Linked DNA regions of Homo sapiens. The protein of the gene in region 1 interacts with the protein of each later gene in a biochemical or structural test. Each region holds a gene or a part of one and is shown in the gene's direction. Other genes may lie near its edges. The genes, in order: HDAC6, RPA1, KPNA1, MIIP, TRIM50, SEPTIN7 and USP10.

The links.
Region 2: of the proteins of HDAC6 (region 1) and RPA1, one has a biochemical effect on the other in vitro, tested with the Homo sapiens proteins (one study listed by BioGRID).
Region 3: the proteins of HDAC6 (region 1) and KPNA1 form a complex in vitro, tested with the Homo sapiens proteins (one study listed by BioGRID).
Region 4: the proteins of HDAC6 (region 1) and MIIP form a complex in vitro, tested with the Homo sapiens proteins (one study listed by BioGRID).
Region 5: of the proteins of HDAC6 (region 1) and TRIM50, one has a biochemical effect on the other in vitro, tested with the Homo sapiens proteins (one study listed by BioGRID).
Region 6: the proteins of HDAC6 (region 1) and SEPTIN7 form a complex in vitro, tested with the Homo sapiens proteins (one study listed by BioGRID).
Region 7: the proteins of HDAC6 (region 1) and USP10 form a complex in vitro, tested with the Homo sapiens proteins (one study listed by BioGRID).

The regions. Positions count from the first base shown.
Region 1 is NC_000023.11:48,819,067-48,822,271, forward strand, and holds part of HDAC6 (protein deacetylase HDAC6), read left to right. Parts: intron 1-1,039; coding exon 1,040-1,189; intron 1,190-3,118; exon of another isoform or gene 3,119-3,197; intron 3,198-3,205.
Region 2 is NC_000017.11:1,836,505-1,840,004, forward strand, and holds part of RPA1 (replication protein A 70 kDa DNA-binding subunit), read left to right. Parts: intron 1-3,500. UniProt on the Homo sapiens protein: As part of the heterotrimeric replication protein A complex (RPA/RP-A), binds and stabilizes single-stranded DNA intermediates that form during DNA replication or upon DNA stress.
Region 3 is NC_000003.12:122,462,940-122,466,439, reverse strand, and holds part of KPNA1 (importin subunit alpha-5), read left to right. Parts: intron 1-2,398; coding exon 2,399-2,498; intron 2,499-3,500. UniProt on the Homo sapiens protein: Functions in nuclear protein import as an adapter protein for nuclear receptor KPNB1. Binds specifically and directly to substrates containing either a simple or bipartite NLS motif.
Region 4 is NC_000001.11:12,018,297-12,022,297, forward strand, and holds the start of MIIP (migration and invasion-inhibitory protein), read left to right. Parts: upstream 1-1,201; 5' UTR 1,202-1,256; exon of another isoform or gene 1,257-1,678; intron 1,679-3,348; 5' UTR 3,349-3,430; coding exon 3,431-3,544; intron 3,545-3,798; coding exon 3,799-4,001.
Region 5 is NC_000007.14:73,318,083-73,321,582, reverse strand, and holds part of TRIM50 (E3 ubiquitin-protein ligase TRIM50), read left to right. Parts: intron 1-1,340; coding exon 1,341-1,436; intron 1,437-2,508; exon of another isoform or gene 2,509-2,530; coding exon 2,531-2,761; intron 2,762-2,873; coding exon 2,874-2,896; intron 2,897-3,500. UniProt on the Homo sapiens protein: E3 ubiquitin-protein ligase that ubiquitinates Beclin-1/BECN1 in a 'Lys-63'-dependent manner enhancing its binding to ULK1. In turn, promotes starvation-induced autophagy activation.
Region 6 is NC_000007.14:35,804,057-35,807,556, forward strand, and holds part of SEPTIN7 (septin-7), read left to right. Parts: intron 1-3,500.
Region 7 is NC_000016.10:84,706,500-84,709,999, forward strand, and holds part of USP10 (ubiquitin carboxyl-terminal hydrolase 10), read left to right. Parts: intron 1-3,500. UniProt on the Homo sapiens protein: Hydrolase that can remove conjugated ubiquitin from target proteins such as p53/TP53, RPS2/us5, RPS3/us3, RPS10/eS10, BECN1, SNX3 and CFTR.

The DNA.
Region 1 (3,205 bases):
ATGTGCATCTGACTGTGCATGGGTAGCCAGGACAGCCTTCTGTGTGTGTACAACTGTATGTGCAAATAACCAGCTCTTGTGGACATACCAGAGTGCATGTCGCCATTGTGGCTGTGTGGTGATGGCATGTGTATGTGACTGTGCAGGATGGCTGTGGGTTATTGTCCTCTTTGAGAAACTGTGTGTGTGTACATGACTAGTGCAGATATATAGTACTGATCTATATGGTACTGTCTGTGTGGCAGTACGTGTGGCTCTGTGTGACCATCTTCTCTGTATGTGGTTCTTGCGTTGCCATCTTCTGTTTTGGAAGTGTGCAAGCACCTCTCTTTGGCACTATGTATATAAAACCCTGTATCTTGTGTATGTGTGTCCCACGTTTGACCCTGGGGTATGTGTGTGTGAGGACATGTCTCTGTCTCTCTGTTTTTCATGTCACTCTCTTGACGTGTCAGTCTGTCTCATGTCCCCATCTGTCCCTTTTTTTTTTTTTTTGAAATGGAGTCTTGCTCTGTCACCCAGGCTAGAGTGCAGTGGTGCAATCTCGGCTCACTGCCAGCTCCGCCTCCTGGGTTCATGCCATTCTCCTGCCTCAGCCTCCTGCGTAGCTGGGACTACAGGCTCCCGCCACCACGTCTGGCTAATTTTTTGTATTTTTAGTAGAGACAGGGTTTCACTGTGTTAGCCAGGATGGTCTCAATCTGACCTCATGATCTGCCCGCCTCGGCCTCCCAAAGTGCTGGGATTACAGGCCTGAGCCACCATGCCCGGCCCCCATCTGTCCCTTTCTGCCATCTCCATGTCTCTAAGTCTGCATCTATTTCTTCTACCTCTGAGTCTGTATTTCTTTTCTTCCCTTCTTCATTTTCAGTCTCTGCTTTTGTGTCTCCTAGTCTCCAGGTTCTGTGTCTCCATCTCTCTGACTTGCATCTCCATGTCTTCATTTGTCCTTTTCTCCATGTCTCTGGGTCGCCATCACTTACTGCCTACCAAAAGCCCCTACCCTCATGCTTATACATCTCTTCTCTCCCTGCCTCAGTTTAACCCAGAACTGGTGCTGGTCTCAGCTGGCTTTGATGCTGCACGGGGGGATCCGCTGGGGGGCTGCCAGGTGTCACCTGAGGGTTATGCCCACCTCACCCACCTGCTGATGGGCCTTGCCAGTGGCCGCATTATCCTTATCCTAGAGGTAACTTTCTCTTGGTCCCTCTTCCCACAGTGGGAGGGTAGTTTGGAAATGTTGGCACCATCACTCAGGACAGTTTCCTGAAATCTCCTTTGAGTGTCCCTGCCTGGGATTGTTGGCACATACTGGGTAGTAATAAGAATAACAGCAACATTAACAGCCTTAATTGAGTGCTCACTATGTGCAGAGCACTCTTCTGAGCACCTCATGTGTCTTATTCATTCAGTTACTTGGCAAAGCAGCCTTATGAGGTAGGGTAAGCTTACCTCATTTTCCTCTCTGAAGATCAGGGAAACTGAGGCACAAAGAGGTGTGATGACTAGCCTGAGATGGCACATTTACTGATGGCAGAACCAGGACTTGAACCCATGCAGCCTGGCTCCAGGGTTTGTGCTTTTTACTCTACCTGAACTGCCTCTAACAAGTTCCTGGGACAAAGGAAATTCACTGACCTTTGTAAATGACTCAGTATCCCCACGCCCTGTGCCTCAGTTTCCTCATCTTTATGAGGCAGGCTAATCATGGAGGAATGCCTGGCATATGGTAAATGCTGGATCTTTTGGATCTGGTTTTTTGTTGTTGTTGTTGTTGTTGTTGTTTGTGAGACAAGAGTCTCGCTCTGTCACCCAGGCTAGTCTGCAGTGGCATGATCTCAGCTCACTGCAGCCTCCACCTCCCGGCTTCAAGTGATCCTCCCACCTCAGCCTCCTGAGTCGCTGGGATTACAGGCACCCGCCACCACGCCCAGCTAATTTTTGTATTTTTAGTAGAGATGGGGTTTCACCATGTTGGTCAGGCTGGTCTTGAGCTCCTGGCCTCAAGAAATCCACCCACCTTAGCCTCCCAGAGTGCTGGAATTACAGGCATGAGCCACCGCACCTGGCCCCTGGTTACTGTTATGCGTTGTTCAGATATTAACCCACTCAGCAACCTTCTGTGCTCTTATTTTCTTTTTCTTTTTCTTTTTTTTTTTGAGACGTTGTCTTGCTCTGTCGCCCAGGCTAGAGTGCAGTGGTGCGATTGTGGCTCACTGGGTTCAAGCAGTTCTCTGCCTCAGCCTCCTGAGTAGCTAGGATTACAGGTGCCTGCCACCACACCCAGCTAATTTTTTTGTATTTTTAGTAGAGACGGGGTTTCACCATGTTGGCCAGGCTGGTGTTGAACTCCTGACCTCGTGATCCACCTGCCTCAGCCTCCCAAAGTGTTGGGATTACAGGCATGAGCTACCATACCTGCCTCTTTTTTTTTTTTTTTTTTTTTTTCCTTTTGAGACAGAGTCTCGCCGTGTCACCCAGGCTGGAGTGCAATGGCGCTATCTCGGCTCACTGCAGCCTCTATCTCCCAGGCTCGAGCAAGCAATTCTCATGCCTCAGCCTCCCGAGTAGCTGGGACTACAGGCGCATGCCACCACGCCTGGCTAATTTTTGTATTTTTAGTAGAGACGGGGGTTTCACCATGTTGGCCAGGCTGGCCTCAAACTCCTGACCTCAGGTAACCTTCCCGCCTCGGCCTCCCAAAGTGCTGGGATTATAGGGGTGAGCCACCGCGCCCAGCCTGTGCTGTTATTTTCACCACTTTACAGATGAGGAAAATAAGTCACTGAGAAATTAATTGGCTTGCAAAAAGTCGCACTTACTATGTGCCCAGTACTGCTTGTGACAGGACACGGTGGGAGTTAAGAACACAGATGACTCCATCAGAGAGCCCAAGTTCAAACCCCAGTGCTGCCTCTTCAGCTGTTATGACCTCGGACAAGTCATCTAACCACTCTGAGCCTCAGTTTCTTTATCTGTAAAAAGAATAGCAACTGGGATTCCTGTAGAGTGTAAAAAAAGTCAATACAGGAGTCCATGTGGAGAAAGAGTCCAGTTGTTCCTGTACTAGGTCAGGGCAGGGGCTTTTGTATGGGTTCACAGCAGTCGTCTTGTGCAGGTCAGGTCAGTGGTTACTGTATGATGTGAGGCCAGGGGTTCCTGGACAGTGTGAAGACGGATTTCTGTATGGCATGAAGGCAAGTTC
Region 2 (3,500 bases), on another chromosome or scaffold:
CATCAACGCACAACTCCTCTTGCTCCTTCCCCACCTCCATCCTCACCCTAGGCAACCAGTGTTCTGGTTTCTACCTTTGTAGGTTAGTTTTGCCTTTCCTAAGACTTCATATAAATGGAATCAAATAATATCTATCCTTTTGTGTCTGGCTTCTTTCAGCAGTTTTTTTTTTTTCCCCAGAGGTAGGGTCTCTGTCACCCAGGCTGGAGTGCAGCGACACAGTCATGGCTCACTCCAGCCTTGACCTCCTGAACTCAAGAGATCCTCGCACCTCAGCCTCCTGAGTAGCTGGGACTACAAGTGCATGCCACCACTCTTGGCTAATTAAAAAAAAATTTTTTTTTTTTTTTTTGAGACACAGTCTTGCTCTGTTGCCAGACTGGAGTGCAGTGGCGCAATCTCAGCTCACTGCAACCTCTGCCTCCTGGGTTGAAGCGATTCTCTTCCCTCAGCCTCCCGAGTAGCTGGGATTACAGCCGCATGCCACCATCCCCAGCTAATTTTTGTATTTTTAGTAGAGACGGGGCTTCACCACGGTGGTCAGGATGGTCTCGATCTCTTGACCTCGTGATCCACCCGCCTCAGCCTCCCAAAGTGCTGGGATTACAGGTGTGAGCCACCACGCCCGGCCTAAAAATATTTTTTGTAGCGATGGAGTCTTGGTGTGTTGTCCAGGATGATCTTGAACTCCTGGGCTCAAGTGATCCTCCCACCTTGGCCTCCCAAAGTGTTGGGGTTACAGGCACAAGCCACCACTGTGGACCAAAATGGTTTTTGAGATTTACCCATGTTAATTCAGTAATCTGCACCTTTTTATGGCTCAGTAGTATTCCATTGTATGACTATAACAAAATTTGTTTATTTACTTATTATTGCACATTTGGGTTATTTTCATCTTTTGGCTATTATAAATGAAGATGCTATGACCATTTAAGTACAACTCTTTTTGTGGAAATATGTTTTCGTTTCTCTGGGATAAATATCTAGGAATGTAATTGCTGGGTCACAGGTAACTGAATGTGTAAAAGAAATCGCCAACCTTTTCCAGTGTGATCATGAGAATTCTAGTTGCTCCATATCCTTGCCAGTCATCAGTCTTTGATTTCGAGTATTCTAGTGAATGTGTAATGGTATCTCACTGTGCTTTTATTTGTATTTCTCTGGTGGCTAGTGACGTTGAGCATCTTTTCGTGGGCTTACTGGCCATTTGTATATCTTCACGAAAGAAGTGTCTGTTCACATCTTTTGTTCACCTAAAAATTGGGTTTTGTGCTTATTAATGAGTTGTGAGAATTCTTGATTCTTGCTAGGTCTTTTGTTAAATATAAATATTACATATATTTTTTCCCAATCTGTGACTTGCCTTTTCTTTTTTGAAATTTTGTTTTTTTTGAAGTGCACTTTTAAATTTTCATGAAGTCCAAGTTATCAGGTTGTGTTTTTTTGTTTGTTTTTGTTTTGTTTTTTGCAGAGTTGTGTTTGTGTGTCCTAAGAAATCTTTGCTAGGCTGGATGTGGTGGCTCATGCCTGTAATCCCAGCACTTTGGGAGGCTGAGGCGGGCGGATCACCTGAGGTCGAGAGTTCGAGACCAACCTGGCCAACATGGAGAAATCCCGTCTCTACTAAAAATACAAAATTAGCTGGGCGTGGTGGCAGGCACCTGTAGTCCCAGCTACTCGGGAGGCTGAGGCGGGAGAATGGCGTGAACCCGGGAGGCGGAGCTTGTAGTGAGCCAAGATCGCACCACTGCACTCCAGCCTGGGCAACAGAGCAAAACTCCGTCTCAAAAAAATAATTAAATAAATAAAATAAAAACAGCAGGGTGCAGTGGCTAACGCCTGTAATCCCAGCACTTTGGGAGGCAAAGCCGGGCAGAACACCTGAGGTCAGGAGTTCGAGACCAGCCTGACCAACATGGAGAAATCCCGTCTCTACTAAAAATACAAAATTAGCCGGGCGTGGTGGCGCATGCCTGTAACCTCAGCTACTCAGGAGGCTGAGTCAGGAGAATTACTTGAACCCAGGAGGTGGAGGTTGTGGTGAGCCAAGATCGCACCATTGCACTTCAGCCTGGGCAACAAGAGTGAAACTCAGTCTCAAAAAAAAAAAAAAAAAAGAAATCTTTGCCTACCCGACCCAAGGTCACAAATCTTTTATGCTGTGTTTTCTTCCAGAAGTTTTATAGTTTTCGCTTTGCCTTGTGGTCTGTAATGCATTTCAAGTTTACTATTTTATCTATGATATATAGCTCTTTTTTAAATACAGATATTCAGTTGTTCCAGCCCTGTTTATTGAAAACACTATCCCATTTCATTGAGTTACTTAGTCACTTTATTTATTTATTTTTTTAATTTTTTATTTTTGAGATGGAGCCTCGCTCTGTCACCCAGGCTGGAGTGCAGTGGCACGATCTCGGCTCACTGCAAGCTCCACCTCCCGGATTCACAGCATTCTCCTGCCTCAGCCTCCCGAGTAGCTGGGACTACAGGCACCCGCCACCATGCCCGGCTAATTTTTTTTTGTATTTTTAGTAGAGACGGTATTTCACCGTGTTAGCCGGGATGGTCCCAATCTCCTGACCTCGTCGTGATCCACCTGCCTCGGCCTCCCAAAGTGCTGGGATTACAGGCGTGAGCCACTGCGCCCGGCCCCTTAGTCACTTTATATAAAATCAATGGACTGTATATGTGTATCTGTTTCTGGAATGTCAATTGATTTCTATGTTGGTGCTTATGTCAATACCACATCATCATAAACATTGAAGATTTATAGTAAATCTTGAAATCTGGCATTGTAAATTCTCCAGCTTCATTTTTATTTTTTATTTTTTATTTTTTTTGAGATGGAGTCTAGCTCTGTCGCCAGGCTGGAGTGCAGTGGTGAGATCTCGGCTCACTGCAACCTCCACCTCTCGGGTTCAAGCGATTCTCCTACCTCAGCCTCCTGAATAGCTGGGATTACAGGTGCCCGCCACCACACCCAGCCAATTTTTATATTTTTAGTAGAGACGGGGTTTCACTATGCTGGCTGGGCTAGTCTTGATCTCCCAACCTCATGTGATCCACCTGCCTTGGGCTCCCAAAATGCTGGGAGTACAGGCGTGAGCCACCGTGCCTGGCCTCTAGCTTCATTTTTTTTTTTTTTTGAGACAGGATCTCACTTAGTCATCCAAGCTGGAGTGCAGTGACATACATGATCATAGTTTACTGCAGCTTTATCTCCCTGGCTCAAGTGATCCTCCCTCCTCACCCTCTGAGTAGCTGGGACGACTGCGCCCAGCTAGTTTTTTTTTTTTTTTTTTTTTTTTTGAGACAGGGCTTTACTATCACTCAGGTAGAGTACAGTGGTGCCATCTCACCTTACTGCAGCCTCTGCTTCCCAGATGCAAACAATCCTCCTGCCTCAGCCTCTCGAGTAGCTGGGACTATAGGCATGTGCCACCACACCCAACTACTTTTTGTATTTTTTGTAGAGACGGGGTTTCACCATGTTGGCCAGG
Region 3 (3,500 bases), on another chromosome or scaffold:
AATTATCTCCTAAAAGGTACTGTTGTTTGTAGTAACAAAAAAAGTACAATTAAAAAAAATGAAGAAAAATCTTTCTTCCGCTTAGCCACCTAGTATTTTTCTCCATTGGCAACTAGTATTACTAAATTCCTATTTATTCTTTCTGAGAACTTTTGTATATTAAAATGTTCTCCTCTCCCCCACCTTTTTTTTTGGTAAATGGTGGCATACTATTCATAGTATTTTGTAGTTTTTATTTTTATTTCATTTCATAGATCTCCAGTTTACATGAACCAGCTTTCTTTGAGAGTTGGGAGGGTAGTATTATTTCCTTTGGAATTCATACAGACATAGCCAATGCCATCATTTTGTGATGAAAGTTTCTAGGCCCTTCAGAAAGCCAGTCTTTCCAATTTTTTTAAGAAGAGAGTGTTAAGTGAATATAAAGTGTTTTATGGATTGTATTAGGGTTCTCCAGAGAAACAGAACCAATGAGAGAAAGAAATTTAGTTTAAGAAAGTGGCTCGTGTCTTTGGGAGCTGGCAAGTGTGAAATCTGTAGGGCACACTGGCCCACTATAAATTCAGGTTAAGAGTTGATGTTGTTGAATCCCTTTTCTTCAGAAAACCTAGTCTTTGCTTTTAAGGGTTTCAACTGATTGGATGAGGCCAACTTGGACTACAGGCGTGCGCCACTACCCCCAGCTAATTTTTTTGTAGTTTTAGTAGAGACAGGGTTTCACCATATTGGCCAGGTTGGTCTTGAACTCCTGACCTCGTGATCCACCCGCCTTGGCTTCCCAAAGTGTTGGGATTACAGGCGTGAGCCACCGCACCCAGCCAGATTACAACTTTCCTTTGTGCAACTAAAAATGTATGGATGGTTCTTGACTTAGGAGGGTTCAAGTCAGGATTTTTCAACTTTACAGTGGTGTGAAAGCAATATGCAATCAGTAGGAACTGTATTTTGAATACCCATACAGTCACTCTGTTTCTCATTTTCAGTACAGTATTAAGTAAATTACACGAGATAGTCAACCACTTTATTATAAAATAGGCTTTGTGTTAGATCATTTGTTCAGCTGTAGGCTAATGTATGTGTTCTGAGCATGTTTAAGGTAGGCTAGGCTAGGCAATGAAGTTTGGTAGGTTAGGTGTATTAAGTGTACTTTTTACTTAATATTTTCAACTTATGATGGGATTAGTGGGGCATAACCCCATTCATTGTAAGTTGAGGCACATCTTTACTAACTCCTTCTGCGGAAGAGGATGCAAAATCTTTGGGTGATGTTCACTCCTGTCCTTGATAGCCTGTGACTTAAATATTATAATGTAAAGTTAACAATACTTAAATAGTGTAATGTAAAGTCAGTACAGCTTGCTATAAGAGGATGAGAGAGGGAAGAAAAAGATATTTGCTTAATGTGTGTATATATATATATGAATGTGTTTATGCAAACATATTCATAACAAATCATATAGAAACCTTGATTTAGGAATCAGTCTTGCAATTTTGAAAATAGTTACTTTTCTGATTCTTGAGTAGAATGCGTCATATATTCCCCTATGAGGATTCTTAGGTATTGCTTACCAGTCATCTAGCATTTACAGCTTAGTGCAGCTTTCTTCACAATTCATCTTGTTGACTGCTACCCTTCATGAAATAAGAACTTTGTTTCTTTCTGACAAATGACCCTGAGAAGAAAATTAACTGCTAATACTGGGGATGAGTTATGGTGGGAAATGGAAACATTCTAATAAAGCAAGAAGGTAGTGGGAAACTGGAAAGTTTTAATAAAACAAGAAAGAAATTTTAAATAAGTTTAAGAGTCAGCTGTTGAATTTGGCAGTGGCTGGATTTATACAGGACCACTCTATTTACTCACTCAATAAGTATTGCAGAGCATTTACAGTACACCAGCCCTTAGTGATAGAGTAAGACAGACAGGGTCTTGGGCTTACAAGGAAGTTACAGTATACTGGAGGAACACAGAAAAATATCTGGGAGTGTAATAAGGGCTGGGGCATACGATTGAAATATGGTGCTGTGATAGAGATAAAGTGGCTACTTTAGGCTTGGAGGTCTTGAAAAGCCATCTTTTAAAACTTAACATTTAATTTTGATAAGAAAGAATAGCCAGCTATGTGATGAGCAAGGAGGGGAAGAGCAATAAGCTCCTTGTCTTATTTACTAGTAAGATCACTTTCTACTGTGAGCTTTTTAATGATAGACAAAGAATTTGGCTTCATTATATTATTAATAATCTTACACGTTTCTATATGTAAAGATTGTCCTACCTTTATGTAACTTCTGGGGAAGTATGATTAACTTAATAACTTGGCCATGATATCTGTTATCTTTCTTTCCTTTGAATTAAGGGTGATAATTTATTATATGTTCTTTTTGTTTGTGATCGCAGGGTGGTGTCATCACTTCTGACATGATTGAAATGATATTTTCCAAAAGCCCAGAGCAACAGCTTTCAGCAACACAGAAATTCAGGAAGCTGCTTTCAAAAGGTGAGCTATGAATATGTTCAGTATATTTTTTCATCTCTCTACAAAATTACTTTCCCATAGTCTGTTTTTCATACCACAGGTAATTTGTGTTGGAGTATTTTTATCAATAAAAGAATAAAAATACAGACATATATGTAATTGTGAACCATGCCTAAATTTTAAGTTTCCTATTTATTTGTGGGATCTCACCAGGATCAGAAAACAGAATTATTTTCATTTTTGGGTTATTTTATAAAAGACTTTATAGTGAATAGTAGTCAGTATCATGTTAATTCAAATTGAGAGACTGACTTTTTTTTATAGAGTGACTTTAAAAATACTCCTTGAAAGAGTTATGATTGTTGATTTTAATGTTAGCAATTTACCACTGAAAGTTAGGAATGCATTTACTGGTGGGCAGGGTGATTACCTTTTTTTTTTTTTTTAAAGACGGCTCTGTTGCCAGTCTGGAGTGCAGGCTGGGCGCGATCTTGGCTCACTGCAACCTCCGACTCCCTGGTTCAAGCGATTTTCCTGCCTCAGTCTCCCGAGTAGCTGGGATTACAGTTACACGCCACCACCCCCAGCTAATTTTTGTATTTTTTTTTTTTTTTTGAGATGGAGTCTCACTCTGTCGCCCAGGCTGGAGTACAGTGGCGCTATCTCGGCTCACTGCAAGCGCCGCCTCCCGGGTTCACGCCATTCTCCTGCCTCAGCCTCCCAAGTAGTTGGGACTACAGGCGCTCGCCACCGTGCCCAGCTAATTTTTTGTATTTTTAGTAGAGACGGTGTTTCACTGTGTTAGCCAGGATCTCGATCTCCTGACCTTGTGATCCTCCTGCCTCGGCCTCCCAAAGTGCTGGGATTACAGGCGTGAGCCACTGCGCCCGGCCTTTTTTGTATTTTTAGTAGAGATAGGATTTCACCATGTTGGCCAGGATGATCTCGATATCCTATCATGATCCGTCTGCCTCTGCCTCCCAAAATACTGGGATTACAGGCATGAGCCACCGCACCCGGCTG
Region 4 (4,001 bases), on another chromosome or scaffold:
AATTTATTTATTGAGACAGGGTCTCTCAGTCAGGGTGGAGTGCAGTGGTGCAATCAAAGCTCACCACAGCCTCAGCCTCTTGGACTCAGGTGATCCTCCCATCTCAGCCTCCCGAGTAGCTGGACTACAGGTACGTGCCTGGCTCATTTTTTGTAGAGACGGGGTTTTGCCATGTTGCCCAGGCTGGGTATCTTTTTTTTTTTTTTCTTTTTTGAGATGGAGTCTTGCGTCTTGCTCTGTCATCCAGGCTGGAGTGCAGTGGCGCGATCTCGGTTCACTGCAATCTCTGCCTCCCTAGTAGCTGGGTTCAAGCGATTCTCCTGCCTCAGCCTCCCTAGTAGCTGGGATTACAGGCGCCGGCCACCTCGCCCGGCTAATTTTTGTATTTTTAGGTTTACTGGCGTGAGCAACCGCGGCCGGCCCCAATACTACACTTTCTTGTTTACTGTGTAGTCCTTATCTTCTGGCGCAAAGCGGGCACTCGCTAAAAACCTGAATGAAAGTATAAAGCAGGCCGGGCGCAGTGGCTCATGCCTGTAATCCCAGCATTTTGGGAGGCCGGGGCGGGCGGATCACGAGGTCAGGAGTTCGAGACCAGCCTGGCCAACATAGTGAAACCCTGTCTCTACTAAAAATACAAAAAAAAAAAAAAAAAAAAAAAAAAAAAAAAAAAAAGCCGGGCATGGTGGCGCTCGCCTGTAGTCCCAGCTACTCGGGAGGCTGAGGCAGGAGAATCAATCGCTTGAACTCGGGAGGCAGAGATTGTGGTGAGCCGAGATCGCGCCACTGCACTCCAGCCTGGGCAACAGAGTGAGACTCCGTCTCCAAAAAAAAAAAAAAAAAGAAAAGTATGAAACGATGAGTACAATGAGTAGCCAGCCGCCTGCCCCACCTACCCCGCCGCTCCGGACTGCCGCCTGCGCCGAGCCTAGGCCGCCCAGCCTGACTGAAACTGCCGCTGCTGAACTCAGCGTATCCAGTCCCGCAGCTGACCAATCGGAGCTCGCCCTTCCGGGGCCCGCCCCATTCCAGGAATCGACCTCCGCACCGGCCTCGAAAATTGACCAATCGGTTGTGTAGCTCCGCTCTTAGTCCCGCCCCCACGCTGAAACTGACACTTCGGATCGCCGAGTAACGCTCACCAGACGTCCCGGCCCTGCCCCTCACCTGACCAATCAAGACGGCCGGCCGAGGCCCCTGGAACGGCTCAGGCGGCTGCGGCTGCTACGGCGGCGCATGCTAGGGGATTCTGCCGGGTGAGTGCTGGGCGGCAGGACTGGGGTGGGGCGGAAGGGCTCGGCAGGAGGCCCCACGTGCATTCCCGCGAGGGGCTCGGGGGCCGCAGTGGAAAAGAAGGGTAGGCTGCATCTGCCTCTGCGGGGGTCCCGCCTCGGCGTCCGCCCGCTCGCCCTCTGTTACTTCTGCGGCCCCGGTGTTTCTGGAGCGTCGCTTTCCCGGTGTCTCCGCTCAGCTTTTCCCTTTCCAAAGCGCGGCCGGGGCCAGGGGAGGGCAAGGCCTGCTGTGCCCTTTGACCCCGTGCGAAAACGGCGACCCTCTGACTATAGGGGTGTGGCCCAGAGCCACTTGGCCAGTTAGGGGTGGGGGCCGGGATCTTTGTCCTGCGGATCAAACAGTTGGCCCCTCTGGACTGCATCTCCGTGCCCCCCGGCCCTGCGGGGTAATATACGTGTGTGGGGGAGGTTCCGGGGTAGTCGGCTACTCTGTGCTCCAGACCTTGCACCCGATCCTGAGGATCCTTGGAGGTGGGGGGCAAGGGCTGGGAGGAGGAGGCGGAGTTTTCCCAGGCTCCCCCACACTTCCAGGGAAAGGCTTTCCAAGAACCCTGAACTCATGGACCCTGGAGTCAAATTTTGGTTCAGATCTAGCCTCTTGCTAGCTGTGTGACTTGGGGCAAGTTGCTTAACTTCCCTGAGCTTTGGTTTCTTCATATGTAAAAAGAAAGTGAAGGAGGAAGGGAGGGCAGGAAAGGAGGAAGAATCCCTTTTGAAGCCTGATTTGTGTTGGACTCACCAGTTATAAAGCAAGCTTGTCCAAACCACTGCCCAGGAGGCGGAGGTTGCAGTGAGCCAAGAAAAAAAGGAAGCATGCCCTTGCCCCAGCCATTTTGGTAATAATAGACGTTTATTGAATGCTTACTGTATACCACTGTAAGCACTGTATTAAGTAAGCACTGTACTGAGTGCTTTGTTTTTTGTATTTTGTGTGTGTGTGTGACAGTCTTGCTCTGTCACCCAGGCTGGAGTGCAGTAGTGTGATCTCCACTCACTACAACCTCCGCCTCCCAGGTTCAAGCGATTCTCCTGCCTCAGCAGCCTCCTGAGTAGCTGGGATTACTGGCGCCCACCACCACACCCGGCTAATTGTTTGTTGTTGTTGCTGTTTTTGAGACGGAGTCTCACCCTGTCGCCCAGGCTGGAGCGCAATGGTGCGATCTCGGCTCACCGCAACCTCTGCCTCCCGGGTTCAGGTGATTCTCCTGCCTCAGCCTCCCGAGTAGCTGGGATTACAGGCGCGTGCCACCACGCCCGGCTAATTTTTGCATTTTTAGTAGCGACGAGGTCTCTCGCCACGTTGGCTAGGCTCATCTCAAACTCCTGACCTCAGGTGATCCTCCTGCCTCAGCCTCCCAAAGTGCTGGGATTACAGACGTGAGCCACTTGGCCTGTTTTTTGTTTTTTTTACAGTGATGCAACCATGGCTCACTGCAGCCTGGGTCTCCTGGGCTAAAGCTATCCTCCTGAGTAGCTGGGGCCACAGACAAGTGCCACCATGGCCAGCTAATTAAATTTTTTTTTGGCCAGGCACTGTAGCTCATGCCTGTAATCCCAGCACTTTGGGAGACCGAGGCAGGCGGATCACAAGGTCATGAGATCGAGACCATCCTGGCTAACACGGTGAAACCCCGTCTCTACTAAAAATACAAAAAATTAGCTGGGCGTGGTGGCAGGCGCCTGTAGTCCCAGCTACTCAGGAGGCTGAGGCAGGAGAATGGCGTGAACCCGGGAGGCGGAGCTTGCAGTGAGCCGAGATTGCGCCACTGCACTCCAGCCTGGGCGACAGAGCAAGACTCCATCTCAAAAAAAAAAAACAAAAAAACAAAACAAAAAAAAATGTTTCTACAAATGTTGTCCAGGCTTAACATGCTTTCTTTAATTCTAACAACAATCGTATGAGGTAGATACTGTTGTCGTCCAGCAGATGAGGAAACTGAGGCACAGAGAAGTTAAATAACTTGCCTGAGGCAGTACAGTTAAAGAGTGTCGAATGGGGGTCTCTGGCACCACAGGGCACCCTACTGAGCCCCGTGTCCTGCTGTCTTGACTTCAGGTAGAAGAGCTGGGCCTGGAACCCAGCCCTGAGGACATCCTGCGGCCCAGGGGCAAGTGACACCTGCTGAGAGAGGCCCAGGATGGTGGAGGCTGAGGAACTGGCACAGCTGCGGCTGCTCAATCTGGAGCTCCTGAGGCAGCTGTGGGTGGGGCAGGATGCTGTGCGGCGGTCAGTGGCCAGGGCAGCCTCGGAGGTGCGTGCCCGCCTTGGGAACCCCAGAGGAAGGGGCTACCTGACCTTCAGGCCAGCATCCAGGCTTCTGGGCTCATCTTGTTCAATACACCCATTTTACTGATGATGGGACATTGAGGGCTGGGGAGGGAAGAGACTGGCCTTGGTCACTGCTGAGGCCGGAGCAGGATGAGGATGCTTGCCTTGGTGCCTGGCGTAGGCCCGGTGGGTAGGTTCTGGCAGCCACTCCCTGGGTGACCCGGCCCCTCTCTCCAGTCAAGCCTGGAATCCAGCAGCAGCTACAACTCAGAGACTCCATCGACCCCAGAGACGTCCTCAACTTCCTTGAGCACCTCCTGCCCACGGGGCCGGTCCTCCGTGTGGGGCCCACCAGATGCCTGTCGAGGGGACCTCCGTGATGTGGCCAGATCGGGGGTGGCCTCTCTCCCACCTGCCAAATGCCAGCACCAGGAGTCCCT
Region 5 (3,500 bases), on another chromosome or scaffold:
CCGGGCAGTCCAGGAGAAGTGCATTTATGTCAGCTTGGGGAGGTCGCAAATCCGTGCTGTGTCCAAGCCCACCAGGAATGGATTCAGGTGTTTATGGGTGTGGGGATTCACCAGGTTTAACCCAGGCCCGTGTGAGCACCACTGGCCCTAGAATTAGCCTCACCTGGCGCCGGCCTTTTTGTGATGGCTCCTGATTAAATACCCACTAATTCTGGATCTGCTGGTGACCACAGAGTTCACCTGATGGGTCCCCTACAGGCAGCATTCAATCCAGGAAGTGCCAGCATCACATGGTGACTTCTGGTAGCTGTAACGTTTAGTGACTCTCTCCATGTCATGCAGAGGGGTGACATTGAGACCCTCTTATGCCTGGGAAGTTCCTGCTGTCAATGCAGAATATTCTTTAAAAAAAAATTAGAGATGGGATCTCACTGTGTTGCCCAGGCTGGTCTCAAACTCCTATCCTCAAGTGATTCTCCCACCTTGGCCTCCTAAAATGCTGGGATTACAGGCACGAGCCATTGTGCCCAGCCTAGAATATTCCTTTTTTTTTTTTTTGAGACGGAGTTTCACTCTTGTTGCCCAGGCTGGAGTGCAATGGCGCGATCTTGGCTCACTACAACCTCTGCCTCCCAGGTTCAAGCAATTCTCCTGCCTCAGCCTCCCGAGTAGCTGGGATTACAGGCATGCACCACCACGCCTGGCTAATTTTGTATTTTTAGTAGAGACAGGGTTTCTCCATGTTGAGGCTGGTCTCGAATTCCTGACCTCAGGTGATCCACTCGCCTCGGCCTCCCAAAATGCTGGGAGTACAGGCGTGAGCCACTGCGCCCAGCCTAGAATATTCTTGAATTAATTTATCTTATTTTTTATTTTTATTTTTTTGAGACAGAGTCTCACTGTGTCACCCAGGCTGGAGTGCAGTGGCATGATCTTGGCTCACTGCAACCTCCACCTCCCAGATTCAAGCGATTCTCGTGCCTTAGCCTCCCAAGTAGCTGGGACTACAGGTGTATGCCACCACGCCTGGCTAATTTTTGTATTTTTAATAGAAATGGGGTTTCACTATGTTGGCCAGGCTAGTCTCGAACTCCTGACCTCAAGTGAAGTCCCACCTCAGTCTCCCAAAGTGCTGGAATTACAGGCGTGAGCTTCTGCGCCCAGACTATTCTCGAACAATTTAACCTGTTTTGGACTCAAGGGTACCTGGGTGGCTCTGGTTCCCGCCCTGGTTTCCCTGGGAGTGCTTGTGGCCATTGGGATACTCCCAAGAAGGTGATCCAAGGAGCTGAGAAGGGGAGGGATCAGCTGCTCATGGGGCCATGGCCTGTTGCCTCCAGGAGGAGCTCGCAGCCCTCATCTCTGAGCTGAAGCAGGAGCAGAAAAAGGTGGATGAGCTCATCGCCAAACTGGTGAACAACCGGACCCGAATCGTCGTGAGTGCCCCTTCCCTCTGCCCCTGCCTGGGACCGGCCACCTTCACTTTCCTGTAGAACTCAGTTCTCATTGGTCCTTTACAGAAAACCATGCCTTCCATATAAAGCCAGAACTCAAAGCATTCCCAGGGCGGGGTGGGGAAAGCGCAAATCCTCTCAGGGGAATTCAACCCAGTTGTCGTTAGGACTGGCTCCAAGTTGGCTTTTGCCCTCTGTGTCCTTGAGACTGAGATAACCCAGGACTTGAGTCTCAGGGGGTAAACAGCTCAAAGCATGGGCATGACTCCTCCGCCCCTGTGCCACCTGTGTCTGCTTGACCTTGCCAGCCTGTCATGGTGCCCTCCCAGTACCTGGGTGCTCAGGCGTGGAGAGGCTGGCAGCCCTGGGCCCTGGCTGATCTCCCGAAGTGAGAGGCACATGGGGCTGGGAGCCATAGTGCCCCGGCCCTGGAGGTGGCTGTGAAACAGAAACAGGAGCCGGGCAAGATCCAGGAGCACTCAGCCTCCCTCATTTACCCTCCTCACCCTTGCGCGGCAGGCGGTACCAGCCCTGCCTGGTGGAGGCGGAGCTCAGGGTTCTGCAGGGAGTTCTGGCTCCCTCACAGCAAAGCCTGCTCGCCTAGGGCCTTCCTGCTTTCCTTCAGTTGTGGAACTCTGGGATATGCACATTTAATAGCTGAAATAGGCAAAGTGGGGTGTGGTGGCGTGCATCTGTAATCCCAGCAACTCGGGAGGCTGAGGCGGGAGGATTGCTTGAGGCTGGGAGGTCAAGGCTACAGTGAGCTATGATCATGCCACTGTGCTCCAGCCTGGGCAACAGAGTGAGACCCTGTCTCTTAAAAAAAAAAATTAAAACAGGCCAAAACAGAGCCTCTCCATTTGAAACGGGAGCTGGGGTCACCCTCCCCACGGCCACCGCCAGGGCTCCCCATGCATGGGGTGAACTCCCTGCCCGGCGCCAGGCCATGCAGCCTCCCCTGAGACTCAGGTCCCAGGACCAACCCGGTCAGGAAGGCCCTGGGGACACCGAGGCCAGCCAGACAGAGCCTGGCAGCTCGGCTGTGACTCTGCAGTGACCAGCCCTCCCTGTCCCAGAATGAGTCGGATGTCTTCAGCTGGGTGATCCGCCGCGAGTTCCAGGAGCTGCACCACCTGGTGGATGAGGAGAAGGCCCGCTGCCTGGAGGGGATAGGGGGTCACACCCGTGGCCTGGTGGCCTCCCTGGACATGCAGCTGGAGCAGGCCCAGGGAACCCGGGAGCGGCTGGCCCAAGCCGAGTGTGTGCTGGAACAGTTCGGCAATGAGGACCACCACAAGTTCATCCGGGTGAGTGGACAGGGAGGCGTCCCATCCCCATACCCGCCAGGGCCTTCCCCTTCCCAACAGTGCCCTAGCTTCCCACCTTCTAGCCTTAACCTCCCTCTCTCTTGCCTTCCAGAAGTTCCACTCCATGGCCTCCAGGTAATAACCTTGGAGAGAGCTCAGCCAGGGTCTGGTGGCTGCGGGCACGGGCATCTCAGCTCCACTGGTTCCTCCATTCGGTTTAACCAGCGCCTCCCAAGCAGCTGCCCACAGCTGGCTCTATAACTGAGCCTGGGAAAAACAGAGGAAAGTCATGTCCCTGCCTTCAAGGGTCTCGTAGATGGGTGGGGAGGCAGATGGTGAACTGTGGGTACCTAGAACAGCAGAAGTTCACTCAAGCTACAGAAATACTAGAGGAGGGTAGCTCATGCCTGCAATCCCAGTACTTTGGGAAGCCAAGGCAGGAGGATTGCTTGAGGCCAGGAGTTCGAGACCAGCCTGGCCAATGTAGTAAGACCCCATCTCTACAAAAAATACAAAAATAAAAAAATTAGTTGGGCATGGTGTCATGTGCCTATAGTCCCCGCTACTCATGAGGCTGAGGCGGGAGGATTGCTTGAGCCCAGAAGTTTGATGCTGCAGTGAGTCGTGACCATGCTACTGCATGATCCAGCCTGGGTGACGGAGCGAGACCCTGTCTCAGAAAACAAAACAGAATGCTAGAGGAGGAGCAGGTGTCTGGGGGACCTGGCAGAGGGGCACA
Region 6 (3,500 bases), on another chromosome or scaffold:
TCGAACCTTATGTTAGGGGTTGGAGGTCTTGGTGTGAGGAAGGAAGACTTTAAAATTAAAGACTGTTAAGTCCGTGTGGCTTTTTCTTACTTTGGATTCATTTATCCTGTACTCCATGTAGCTCGCATGGTTAGAGAGATCTGAGGCCTACTCCTATTTGAGAGGATGTTATCCCCCATAGCCAGAAACCAGGGTGGCTTCCAAAAGAAAAGGGTAGCATTCGGTGACTCTGCTTTAGGCCTTGAGGATGAATCTTTTCTTTGTTTTTGTCTTCCTGTGTCCTTTTGCATCATCAGAGATCTGGAGACTAAGCTTTGAGCATGGGCTTGGGGAAGAGGGGCCAAAGAGGCAGCTTGGCTGGCATTAAGTGTTGAAGGCCGTAGACCAGACACACACTAAATCCTTGTGACTTACACTTGGTGCAGTCCAGCTATCCAGATGTAGGGATTACACATTGGGGTTTGAGTTCAAAATCTTAATAATGATTTAGAACATGGGCTTTGATGTTAGATATGGATGCAAATCTTGGCTTTGCTACTCAATAGATACACCAGTCAGAGTAGGTTAGATTGTAATTTTAAAAACTACAGTTAGGCGTTGTTAACAATACGGTACATTGAGAAATCATAGAGTATTTTACCTACACAAACCTAGATGGTAGAGCCTACTATACACCTGGGCTATATCCTATTGCTTCTAGGCTATGAGCTTGTATAGCTTGTTATTGTACTGACTACTGTAAACAATTATGACAAATGGTAAGCGTGTTTCTTTTTTTGTTTTTTTTTTTTTTTTTTGAGACGTAATTTCGCTCTTGCTGCCCATGCTGGAGTGCAATGGTGCAATCTTGGCTCACCGCAACCTCTGTCTGCCTCCTGGGTTCAAGCAGTTCTCCTGTCTCAGCCTCGCGAGTAGCTGGGATTACAGGTGCTTGCCTGCCTCAGCCTCCCAAGTAGCTGGGGTTACAGGCACTCGCCACCACGCCCAGCTAATTTTTGTATTTTTAGTAGAGACGGGGTTTCACCATGTTGGCCAGGCTGGTCTGGAACTCCTGACCTCAAGTGATCCTCCTGCCTCGGCCTCCCAAAGTGCTGGGATTATAGATGTGAGCCATCACGCCCGGCCAAGTGTTTGTGCTTCTAAGCATAGAAAAGATGATGTGCTGTACTATGAACTTGTGACTGCTATGACATCACAGGTGATATGAATTTTTTTAGCTCCATAGTAATCTTATGGGACTACTGTCATAAATGTCCATTGTTGACCAAACGTTGGACATACTGCATGACTATACTGCAAATAAAAAAAGTGGAAATGGAATAAGAAAGATAAACTATAAGCCCCAATTTTTTATTATTAGTTTCAATAGACATAAAATTATTCTGCTATTAAATTTTCCATTTTTGTGCTCTCAATTTGTGTTTCTCTGACATAAACTGATAATTCACAGACTGGCTCATTGGTCCACAGACCACACTTTGCATAGCACTAGGTTAAACTATGCTGCAGCAACAGACTGTCATGCTAAAGTTTATGTACAGTATTATGTTTTAGGCCAGTGTTAACTTTAAAAATACTATACTTTGAAAGCTGAGAATTAAGTATCCCCTGTGATTGGGGGGATAGCCTGAAGCTGCTCCTGCTTACGTTATTTTGAAGTTTTCTAAGTCTTAAGTATTCATGTGTCATTTGCATTTTATTCAATGTTTGTTTGCTTTATGTGAAATATAAAGATGATATTCTTCCTCCTTCCCCACTGATCTGGAAGTAAAAATGGACTTTCCTGAAGTTGTAACATCTTAATTCTGTTGTTTTGTTTAACTCTGGGACACAACTGACTACTTCTGGTAGCTTTATTGGAGGTGAGGCTCCAGGTCAGAGTTTCTCATTTGAGGTTTTGTAATTATTTGAGGGAGGGGAGGGCTGTCTTGAGCATTGTACAGTATTTACCAGCATCCCTGCTGTCATCGTGCTAAGATGCCAGCAGCACATGCTCTCTCTGGTTGTGAAATGAAAAAAATGTCTACAGACATTGCCAAATGTCACGTGGGGGAGCAGAATCATCCTTGGTTGAGAACCACTGCACTAGGTGATGGAGAGCCATTGAAGGATTGTGGGAGACGGGGAAGAAGGAACAAGCTTCCTTAACTGTCTTACTTTTTACTTCTTCCTGGAACTCCTACCACTTAATATTCTTAGTATTTCCTAAACTTGGGAATCAAAATTACCTAGATTTTTTTGTATTAAAAGTTTATCATTAATTGATATATTTTTGCAAAGCATGATCAGTAATTACTGGACATAGAACATTATGCTAGGTCATTATTTTCTAAAGTATGGTTGAAGGGTCAACCATGGCTTGGAGTTAAAAATGCAGATTAACTGGTTCCCACTACAAGACCCATTGATTAGCAATCTCTGGGAGAGGGACCCAGGAGTCTACATTTCCAAATGCTTTCCGACTTATCAAGTAACTTCATTATTGTATGCTTTCATAGAAAAAAATACGTGGATTTTAAGTATTTAGTTCAATGAATTGCTGATGTGCATACACACATCTTGTAGCCTTTATTCTAATCAAGATAGAGAATACTTCCACCATCCCAGAGTTTCTTGTGCCCTGTTGGAGTTCTCCTTCTACTGCCCCAGGTAACCACTGATAAGATTTCTAATAGCCATGAATTAGTTTTTTTGTTTTTGTTAGTTGACTCATTTAAAGTGTTTTTTCTGGGTAACTTTCTAAAGTCTCCCCATCCCTATAACTTCTTTATTATATAAGATTTCAAATAAAATGAACGTCATGGTGTTTTTCAAAGAATACAGATTCTCATAGTGTTTCACACTTTGATAAATGATAGGCCTGGGATGGGGCCCTGAAAATCTTTGGCTCTGATTGACTGTTTTCAGGAAAATCAAAACTATTTTCCACCAGTTTTGCTGTGCTTTATAAAATATATTTGAAATATTCCTGCAGTGGTAATTTGAAACTTTTGTAAACTTTGTTCATTGATTTAACAAGTATTTGACTCCAGGAAGTATCAGACACTTTGACACCATAGCAATCAAGAAAGCTGTGGTCATGGATGTTATGATGTTTCTGTTTTCATTTCTGAAATTGCTTTTTTAAAACTTTTTTTTTTTTTTTGAAACGGAGTTTCGCTCTTGTTGCCCAGGCTGGAGTGCAATGGCACAGTCTCAGCCACCGCAGCCTCCGCCTCCCCGGTTCAAGTGATTCTCCTGCCTCAGCCTCCCGAGTAGCTGGGATTACAGGCATGTGCCACCATGCCCGGCTGAATTTTTTTTTTTTTTTTTTTTTTTTTTTTTAGATGGAGTCTCTCTGTGTCGCCCAGGCTGGAGTGCAGTGGCGCGATCTCGGCTCGCTGTAAGAAGGTCTGCCTCCCGGGTTCACACCATTCTCCTGCCTCAGCCTCCTGAATAGCTGGGACTACAGGCGCCCGCCACCGCGCCCGGCTAATTTTTGTATTTTTAGTAGAGACGGG
Region 7 (3,500 bases), on another chromosome or scaffold:
GTATTTATATTTATTTATATTTTTATATTTATATATATTTTTATATATATATATTTTTTGAGACGAAGTCTTCCTCTGTCACCCAGGCTGGAGTGCAGTGGCGCAATCTCGGCTCACTGCAAGCTCCGCCTCCCGGGTTCACGCCATTCTCCTGCCTCAGCCTCCGGAGTAGCTGGGAATACAGGTGTGCGCCACCACGCCCAGCTAATTTTTTGTATTTTTAGTAGAGACGGGGTTTCACGGTGTTAGCCAGGATGGTCTCCATCTCCTGACCTCGGGATCTGCCCACCTCGGCCTCCCAGAGTGCTGGGATTACAGGCGTGAGCCACCGCGCCGGGCCAAGACTATATATATATTTATTCAAGACCTGAAGTAGGCTTTCTGGGTAGATCTGATCATTGGAGAAGGAGAAACATATTTATTACGAGATACTAAGCATTGTAGTAGTCATCATTTGAAGCCTATAAACTCTATAAACTGCATAGTTTAGAAAGTGCCTTAGCTTGTTTGAGCCTTTACAGCAACTCTGTCCTGTATTATTATAACCATTTTACAGATGAGTAAGATAAGACCCAGAGAGGTTGTGGCTTGAGGTCAAATGGCTGCTGGCCATCAGGACCTTTTAAAAGCAGGTGTTTTGACTTCTAAATCCTTTGCTTTTTCTACTTTGCCAGACTGGTTTTCTGGAAGAGACTGATGAAGGCATAATCTTTCACACTGTGACTTCCCCTTAGTAGTTCCTCCATAAACATTTACAGAATGAATGAATGAAATGTGCATTTAGAAACTTTAATGTTACTAATTACAAAATTTGTTACTATAATATGTTACTATTCACTAAAGTTTGTGTGGGGTACATTTTAATAAAGTCGTTTATTTTATTTTCTAGTATAAAGACATGCTATTTTTAAGACACGAAAACAGCACAGACGTATTTAAAGTGAAAAGTAGAAGTCATTCCCTTCCTCTCTGATCCTTAATCGTCAGTTTGGTGTGTGTCTTCTATGCTTTTTTCCACTGGAGTATTTTGTTGTTGTTGTTCCGTTGTTTCATAATATGGTCTGTTGTATCTAGTCACTGAACTTTATTGAGCAAACCTTGTTTTCAAAATTATTGAAAACATCCACTGAAGTCAGTTTTCTTAGGTTTACCTAATTTTGCCAGGGAATGAAGCAGATATTCTGGAGATTGAAGTGACTTATCAGGATCCAGTGTGCAGGGGATTGTGGAAGTGCTGCCACAACTTATAACATGTTGTCCAAACAATTTTTTTTTTTCTTAAGAAATATTTTGGGCCAGGTGCAGTGAGTGACTCACGCCTGTAATCCCAGCACTTTGGGAGGCTGAGGCAGGCGAATCACTCAAGCTCAGGAGTTTGGGACCAGCCTGGGCAACGTAGCAAAACTCTTTCTCTACAAAAATACAAAAATTCACTGGGCATGGTGGTGCTCTCCTGTAGTCCCACCTACTTGGGAGGTTGAGGTGGGAGGATCGCTTGAACCTGGGAGGTGGACATTGTAGTGAGTCGAGATTGTGCCACTGCACTTCAGCTTGGGTGACAGAGCGAGACTCTTACGTCAAAAAAGAAAAGATAAGAAATATTTTGAAGACTTCCACCCCCTTAGTAGTAGTCATGCTGTCCGGTGTTCATAGTGTAAAAAGAGGTCTGGCTGGGCGTGGTGGCTCACGCGTGTAATCCCAGCACTTTGGGAGGTCGAGGTGGGTGGATCACCTGAGGTCAGGAGTTTGAGACCATCCTGGCCAACATGGTAAAACCTCATCTCTGCTAAAAATACAAAAATTAGCCGAGTGTGGTGGCGGGCACCTTTAATCCCAGCTGCTCCGAAGGCTGAGGCAGGAGAATAGCTTGAACCCGTGGGGGCAGAGGTTGCTGTGAGACAAGATCACGCCACTTCACTCCAGCCTGGACGAAAGAGTGAAACTCCATCTCAAAAAACAAAAAAGGAGGTCTGATTCACATTCAGATTCTTGTCCATCCATTGCCTTTGCACTAGATTTATGAGAGGACAAACTTTTTATTAGTTGGAGATTGGTAAGTCACCTGCCCTAGGGAATAATGAGAAACTGGGTAATTCACCTGAATTTTTCTCCATCTTCTTCAAAATCATGTTTTTGTCTTCTGTCACTTTGTTTCATCAGAGTACTGCAATGGCAAAAAACAAAACACTTCCCAACTCAGGTCCCACTCCTGAGAGATAACCACATTTAAGTACTTCTGACTTGTAATAGAATGCAAAATCGGGGCTTCCAAGTGTGGTTTACTATTTTGTTTAGAATTAATTTGTAGAATACTAGACACTTTTTTCAGAACCACATATGAAGGACTTTATATCTTTTGTGATTGTTCACAGATTTTGGTGGCCGGACGTTAGGAGTATAGAGCTGAAGAGAGAATTCCTGTGCTTTAGAGGTTCGCTGGGTAGTGAGGGAGAGAAGCAGGCTAATGGCTGGGTGCATCCAGTTTTAGGGTGGTAATTCCTGTAACACAAGTGTGAACAACATAGTCAAGAACATTCATTCATTCGTTTGTTCATTCATTCAGCAAATAGTTACCGAGTGGCTGCTGTGTACCAGGCACTGAGGAGGGAGTGATGAGCGAAAACAGGCATTGTTTCTCTCGCGGAGGAGTTTATGGGTCCATTGAGGAAGACAGCTTGCTAATCAGATAATCACAGTTACGTACACGTCACTCCAAACTGAGAGATGTTTCCCAAAGGAAGGGAACACAATCTGAAGTCAGAGAACCGTTCCCGTGGAAGTGACGTGTTTACAGCATGAGACAGTGGGGACAGCATGTGTGGTGGACCTTTGGCTGGAGGGAATTTGGAGCACTTTGGAGAACTCAGCAAGGAGTTGTGTGTCTTGGGCACAGAGCTGGAGGGGAGGGACAGACGCACCATCCAACCTTGCAGCCTTTGTTAGATGTTACTGTCTTTATTCTGAGAAAAGTGTGGAAGAGGGGGTGGTACAACATTTGACCATGGAACCTCATAATCACATTGCCTTTTGGGATCATACTCTGCCCAGTGAAGAATAGACTCACGGGGTCGCAGTGGCCATAAGGAGATCATTTAGGGCAGGGTCCTTGGACTTTTGACTCGGAGGGTGCCGTGGAGGTGGAGAGAAGTTGCGTGACTCAGGAGTTAGGTATAAGGTGTTTCAAAAAAGGAGGAGAGTGGGACTGAATGTTGGGCAAAGCTGGGAAGACGTCTCTTGTAGAACGGTGACATTTGAGCTGGAGTTTTTCAGGCAGAGAAGCACACGGACAAGGGCATGTGGAGGAGACTGTGCAGAGGAACTGTCTCAAAGCCTGCAGCCTGTTTGGGAAACAGATAAATTTGTGGCTGAAATGGTGTGTAGGGTGAAGTGGTTAGCCGGGAGTCTGGAGAGGAGAGAGAAAGAATTTGGTAATCCAAGCTCAGGACTGAGTGAAGTTGGTAGCAACTCTGTGTTAAGATAGCTGGTTGAGGCCGGGTGCG